Homo sapiens: one gene and its partner. Changing the gene in region 2 together with the main gene of any one other region gives a genetic interaction. Each region holds a gene or a part of one and is shown on either strand. Other genes may lie near its edges.

What was found.
Region 1: changes in KPNA3 (region 2) and ACACA together harm fitness more than expected from each alone (negative genetic interaction), as found in Homo sapiens cells (one large-scale study listed by BioGRID).

Annotation. Positions count from the first base shown.
Region 1 is NC_000017.11:37,084,490-37,086,990, forward strand, and holds the end of ACACA (acetyl-CoA carboxylase 1), read right to left. Parts: 3' UTR 503-2,501; downstream 1-502. UniProt on the Homo sapiens protein: Cytosolic enzyme that catalyzes the carboxylation of acetyl-CoA to malonyl-CoA, the first and rate-limiting step of de novo fatty acid biosynthesis.
Region 2 is NC_000013.11:49,722,860-49,726,687, reverse strand, and holds part of KPNA3 (importin subunit alpha-4), read left to right. Parts: intron 1-1,186; coding exon 1,187-1,272; intron 1,273-3,828. UniProt on the Homo sapiens protein: Functions in nuclear protein import as an adapter protein for nuclear receptor KPNB1. Binds specifically and directly to substrates containing either a simple or bipartite NLS motif.

The DNA of each region.
Region 1 (2,501 bases), on a different chromosome or scaffold from region 2:
ATGCGGCCCCAGTGTTTACACTGAGTTATCAGAGCACTCTCAACTTCCTGTATGCTGAGAAGGGACTTCTGAGGAGGACAGTGGGCTCTGGGCTTCCAAGGCCTGGAGCTGTTATCCTCACTAAACAGCTGTGGTCTTTCTTGTCCCTGCTCTAAAGACATTCTCTTTTGGAGGGGACATTCCTGCCAGGACTCCCATCCAGCTCTCAGCAGGAAGAAGTTTCCCATCCTGAAAAACTCAACAGAAACTAAAAAACTGACCCTCTGCTACGGGGTTCCCGAGCATTTGTAGCCTTTCAGAGTTTGACCTTGATTCAGCGGATAAGACAGGGCTGGCCAAGGCCAGCTTTTTACTGCCTACCCATCATCTTTATGCAAGTTCAGGAGACAAAGGGCTTTAGGTGTTACAGGGCCATGGAGGGGCTTGCCCCACACTGAGCCCCTGCTGAAAGCAGAACAAGAAATGAGGTGGCTGGGCATGGATTGAAATGACAAACTGTAACTCTTCTACAAATGTAGAGGTTTATTTCAACAAAATGTGTAAAGAGTGCATCTGAAGCTCCTGCTCATCACAGTATGTGTCCATCAAATTCTGAGACAAGTGAAGGCTGTTTTGTGAACGAAGAGAACAGATAATATGGCGGTCTCCGTCCAAGCAGGTCTTGGTCAATATCCATCATTTATACTCCTCCTGCCTTAGTAGCCTTGCATGTTTGAGGGGCTGTGGGAATGTCAGATTGCTCATGTTCTGTGCCTCCAACTTGAAAAAATCCTTGTCCAGGGTAAGACCTACAGTAAGGAGCTCTGGGGATGGGGGAGGAGGCATTACAGGGTTCTAGAGAGGAAACATACTCGTTTGTGTCATAATTTGGTGGGGAGAGGGGAGGTAAATGAGTGTAACCCACCCTGCCTCTGAAGACATGCCTGGACAGGCCTCCTGGGGGGTGCAGGACTTCATACCACTTGTAGATATGTGGGATTTGATTTATTGCAAAAAAGCATAGAAGAATAATCTGGTCAAAAATGAATCCAATTCTTACTAGGTAAGCAAATAGCCAGCAATGGTCAATGCATTTTCCTGGACTGAGAATTGTCCCCCACCACTTTATGCCCTTTTCTGAAGGTGCTGAACACCTGTACCTTCCACCAGGGCAGCCGGGCTGAGGCTCTGACTCCTGGGGGCTGTCCGCTCCATACCCAGCCATACAGTGCCCACCTGCAACCCAGAACCATTGAAAAGTCCAGCCAATCTATCCGCACAGATTCCTCCTGAAGAAGGGGAGGTGGAGCTCGTTCTTGTGTGCAAACTACAGGGTTAAGGCTCAGAACTGTGGCTTGTCCAAGAACGTTCATACCACTGCTTCTCAAATGTCTTAGTGATTTCCTCCTTGGTCATCAGTGACAAATGCAGTTAGCTGCACTAAAGGAACCGGATGCTACACCAGCCCTGATCACCTGCCACTCTTGCTTTAGGAACAGAGGAATCAGTAAGTTCTTTTCTTGAATAAACTAGTTGTTGAAAGTAAACTCTCTCCACCACCTGAGGAAGCCCCTGATGCCAGTCAGGAGGGGCCAGTAAGCCTGGAGGACAGCAGCACCATGACTGAGTTGTAAATAATCTTAAGGTCATGTGGATTCTGTGTTTCCTGGAAGCCTCCCTCATCAGGAAGGCCAGCTCCTGGTGCTGAGGGTGTAGCTGTCACCAGGGTCCTTTCAGAGCTGTGGGGAGACCTGCTGCCTGTCTACACTCTGGGGAAGAGAGTAGAACCGTTAGCTGCTAGGACAGTAATCCTGGAACTAGGGAAGAGTGAGTGTGGAGGCACCATTAACCTCTCAAAACCATCCAAGCTCCAGGCTTCATAGGAACAACTTTCCAAGTCCTCAAAACAAACAGACTATCTATCTATCTCACTGGCTCTCCACATGGCATAAATAACTAGTTTCCACCAGTGCAGAAAGGGCAGTTCTCTTCTGGCTCCTCCTCTGCCAACTCAGGCTTCACCACCTGTGGAACTGCTGGGGCCCCTCAAGCACTGGCCTTGCAGCTCCCAGCCACATGCGACAGCTAGTCCAGCAGTGACGTGCAGGCGAGAGGCAGGCCAACAACTACCTTTCCCTTTGTCCTCAGAGACTGAACCCAAGGTTGAGGTCCCCTAAATCAAGAATAACTGGTTCTATTTTCTTTCTCTGCTTCTTGGCTCACAGTTTTGCCCTCATCTTTGAGTTCCTATGGAGCTTGTAGTAGATTTTATGCTCTAATTTTTCTTCATAAAAGGTACCGTAGTGTGGTTAAACTGGGAATCATTCCTCTCCAGTGCCTACTGTGTGCTGGGCTAAGAGTCGGGGTAATAAACAATGGACTTGAGGCTTCCTCCTCTCCTTAGCCCTCCTCTGCTGCCTGTGGCTGCGGCTCATGGGGCCAGGAGTGAGGGGGGCTGCTCACTGCTGGGCAACTCCTCACGCTTCCCCATGCTGGGAGGCCAAGGGGCTGTCAGGACAGGA
Region 2 (3,828 bases):
TACAGGTGTAAGCCCCAACATGTCTTTTAATAGGTCTCTCCTATATCAGCCTTTAACCTTTTTTAGCCATTCTGCATACCATTGATTTGAACATTATTTTCTTTCCTCCCTTTTTCAATGCCCCATCCTTAGCATATCTGTAGAATACACTCCTCACTCCCATCCTGAAACACACACACACATGCACAAACACCCTGTTACTTGCTTCTTAGTTAGTTTCAGCTCTCTTGATCTAATCCTTGTCGTTCCTACACATCATGATCCTTCCATGCATGATACCTGTTTTATTTCCCACTGTCACTGCCTTTCTTTTTAAATCCATCTTTGAAAAGCTAGTTCAGTTGTCACTTTCTTTGTGAGGTCTTCCATTACTATTCGAAAATATAATGATCTTGTTTTTTCAACAAAATTATACAGCCTTGTAATATCCCTAGTATGTAAAGCAGATGGTGTAATGGAGACAGATGGGGTTCTAGCTTTAAGACCAGCCTAGAGCGTGTGATAGTGGTTAAAGTGAGATGATGAGGGCCTCAACTAGCACTTGATATTAGGGGTGATTATATAAATGTAAGAAATGTTTAAGAGGTAAAATCGACATGATATATTGATTAGATGTGTCTGTGGAGAGGAAGTCGAAGTCAAGGGAAATAATGACTGGCTAAATGTTGTAATACCAGTGGACATAAAGAAGCAGGTTCATAGTGACTGGCTTTGGGAGCCAAAGAGATTTTTTAAGTAGAGATGGCTGCTGGGTGCAGTGGCTCATGCCTATAATCCCAGCACTTTGGGAAGCCGAGGTGGGCAGATCACCTGAAGTCAGGGGTTCAGGACCAGCCTGGCCAACATAGTGAAACCCTATCTCTACTAAAAGTACAAAAATGAGCCAGGTGTGGTGATGTGCACCTGTAATCCCAGCTACTTGGGAGGTGGAGACGAGAATCACTTGAACCCCAGAGGCAGAGATTGCAATGAGTCAAGATGGCGCCACTGCACTCCCGCCTGGGTGATGGAGGGAGACTCCATCTCAAAAAAAAAAAAAAAGTAGGGTTGGCTAGCAGGCAATTGGATTATAACAAGGTGAAATTCAAGGACAAGGCAAAGAATAGCCATATCTTATCAGTCTTAAGATTCATTAATTTAAGTGGTAGTTATGTGTCTAAAAAGATGTGTTATTGTTTTTTTACAGTCCTTCATTACAGTTTGAAGCTGCTTGGGCATTAACTAACATAGCATCAGGAACTTCTGCACAGACTCAAGCTGTTGTGCAGTCTAGTAAGTAAATTCCTTACTGTCTGAACTTTTTGTGTTTTAATGATGGCAAGGAAGTAGAGTTTTGTAATAAAGAAATTTTATCTTGTAACATTTTTTAAATGATGACTTTTATAAGTTACTTTTGATGACCGATATCTTTTTCATAGCCGTCATTAATTTATCATGAAAAATTTTTAATTGTGGTTATTAAAAGAAGAGTAGAGTTTTATCTTTTGGAGTAGACATCATGCTGTGATAACAGGATTTTAAATTCCGTTTCTGATATCTTCAAGATGCTGAATGGCTTCTGCCTTTTAGCTTATGACATATTTTAAATTTTACTTTCCTCAAGATGGGCTAATAATTATTGTTAAATGACACTGACACAAGCTCTTTAGAAAAGTACTAGATATCACCACGTACGTTATTATAGTATGGGACACTTAGCTAATTTTAGGTGTGGTAATCAAGGTGATTTTAAGTAGCATGTGATATGGCAGTAAGTTACATTGAATCATGTATTGAGAATACTATTCTCACCAGACCCACAGGTGGCTCATGCCTCTAATCCCAGCACTTTGGGAGGCTAAGGCAAGCAGATCACTTGAGTTCAGGAGTTCAAGAACAGCCTAGGTGACATGACAAAATCGTGTCTCTACAAAATATTTAAAAATTAGCATTGCATGGTGGCGCATGCCTATAGTCGCACCTACTCAGGAGACAGAGGCGAGAGGATCGCTTGAGCCAGGGAGGCAGAGGTTGCAGTGAGCCGAGACTGCACACTGCATTCCAGCCCCGGCGACAGAGTGAGACCCTATCTCAAAAACAAAGGCTGGGTGCAGTGGCTCAAGCCTGTAATCCCAGCACTTTGGGAGGCCGAGGCGGGTGGATCACGAGGTCAGGAGATCAAGACCATCCTTGCTAACATGGTGAAACCCTGTCTCTACTAAAAATACAAAAACAAAATTAGCCGGGCATGGTGGCGGGCGCCTGTAGTCCCAGCTGCTTGGGAGGCTGAGGCGGGAGAATGGCGTGAACCCGGGAGGCGGAGCTTGCAGTGAGCCGAGATCGTGCCGCTGCACTCCAGCCTGGGTGACAAAGCGAGACTCCACCTCAAAAAAAAAAAAAAAGTTATCATGTGACCCAGCAGTTCTACTCCTAGGTGAAACCAAGAGATATGAAAACATATTCATACAAACACTTGTACATAAATATTCACAGCAATGTTATTCATAACTAACCCAAATGTTCATTAACCGAGGAGTGGATAAAGTGAATGTGGTGTATACAATGGAATACAATTCAGCAGTAAAAAAGAATGAAGTACCAATACCTGTTACCACATGGATGAACCTGAAGAATGTTAAGTGAAGTCAGACCCCCCAAAAAACACAGTATGATTTCATTTGTATGAAATGTCCAGAATAGGCAAATCTGTAAAGACAGAAAGCAGATATTTAATGGTTGCCTGCCGCTTGGGGAATGTGTGGCAGAGGAACAAATGTGGAATGACTGCCTTAAGTATGAGATTTCTTTTTTCTTTTTTCTTTTCTTTTTTTTTTTTTTTTAAGACGGAGTCTCGCTCTGTCGCCAGGCTGGAGTGCAGTGGCGTGATCTCAGCTCACTGCAACTTCCGTCTCCTGGGTTCAAGCAATTCTCCTGCCTCACCCTCCCAAGTAGCTGGGACTACAGGCACACACCACCATGTCCAGCTAATTTTTGTATTTTTAGTAGAGACGGGGTTTCACTATGTTGGCCAGGATGGTCTCAACCTCTTGACCTCGTGATCTGCCCGCCTCGCTTCCCAAAGTGCTGAGATTATAGGTGTGAGCCACTGTGCCCGGCTGAGTATGATATTTTTTTTTTTTGAGACAGAGTCTTGCTCTGTCACCCAGGCTGGAGTGCAGTGGCACGATCTTGGCTCACTGCAACCTCCGTCTCCCTGGTTCAAGCAGTTCTCTGCCTCAGCCTCCAAAGTAGCTGGGATTACAGGCGCCCACCACCACGCCCGGCTAATTTTTATATTTTTAGTAGAGACAGGGTTTCACCATCTTGGCCAGGCTGGTCTTGAACTCCTGACCTGGTGATCCATCTGCCTCGGCCTCCCAGAGTGTTAGGATTACAGGCATGAGCCATCATACCCAGCCAAGATTTCTTTTGAGGTCCTGGAAATGTTATAAAATTAGATTGTGGCGATGTCCTCACAACTCTGTATAAATATGAAATGTCATTGAATTACACACTTAAATGTAAATTTATTGTAATTATATCTCCGTAAAGTTGTTAAAACTGAATTAATTTAAATTTTAAGTAAATAATACAAGTAATACACAGATACAGCAAAAAAAAAAAAATGAGGTAGTGCACAGTTGATTGAAATTTTTAAAAAGTGATCTAGCTTATGCTGGAAATGGGTATAATGTATACATTCTGTAAAGAGTAAGGATTATGAGAAATTATTTTAAAGTATAAGATAGACCTGATATGAGATTAATCAGTTCTTTGGTTAATCCCCGTATCAGGAATTGAGATTTTGTAGACTAAAGCATTACATTTTAAGGTTACATGTTTGGGGTA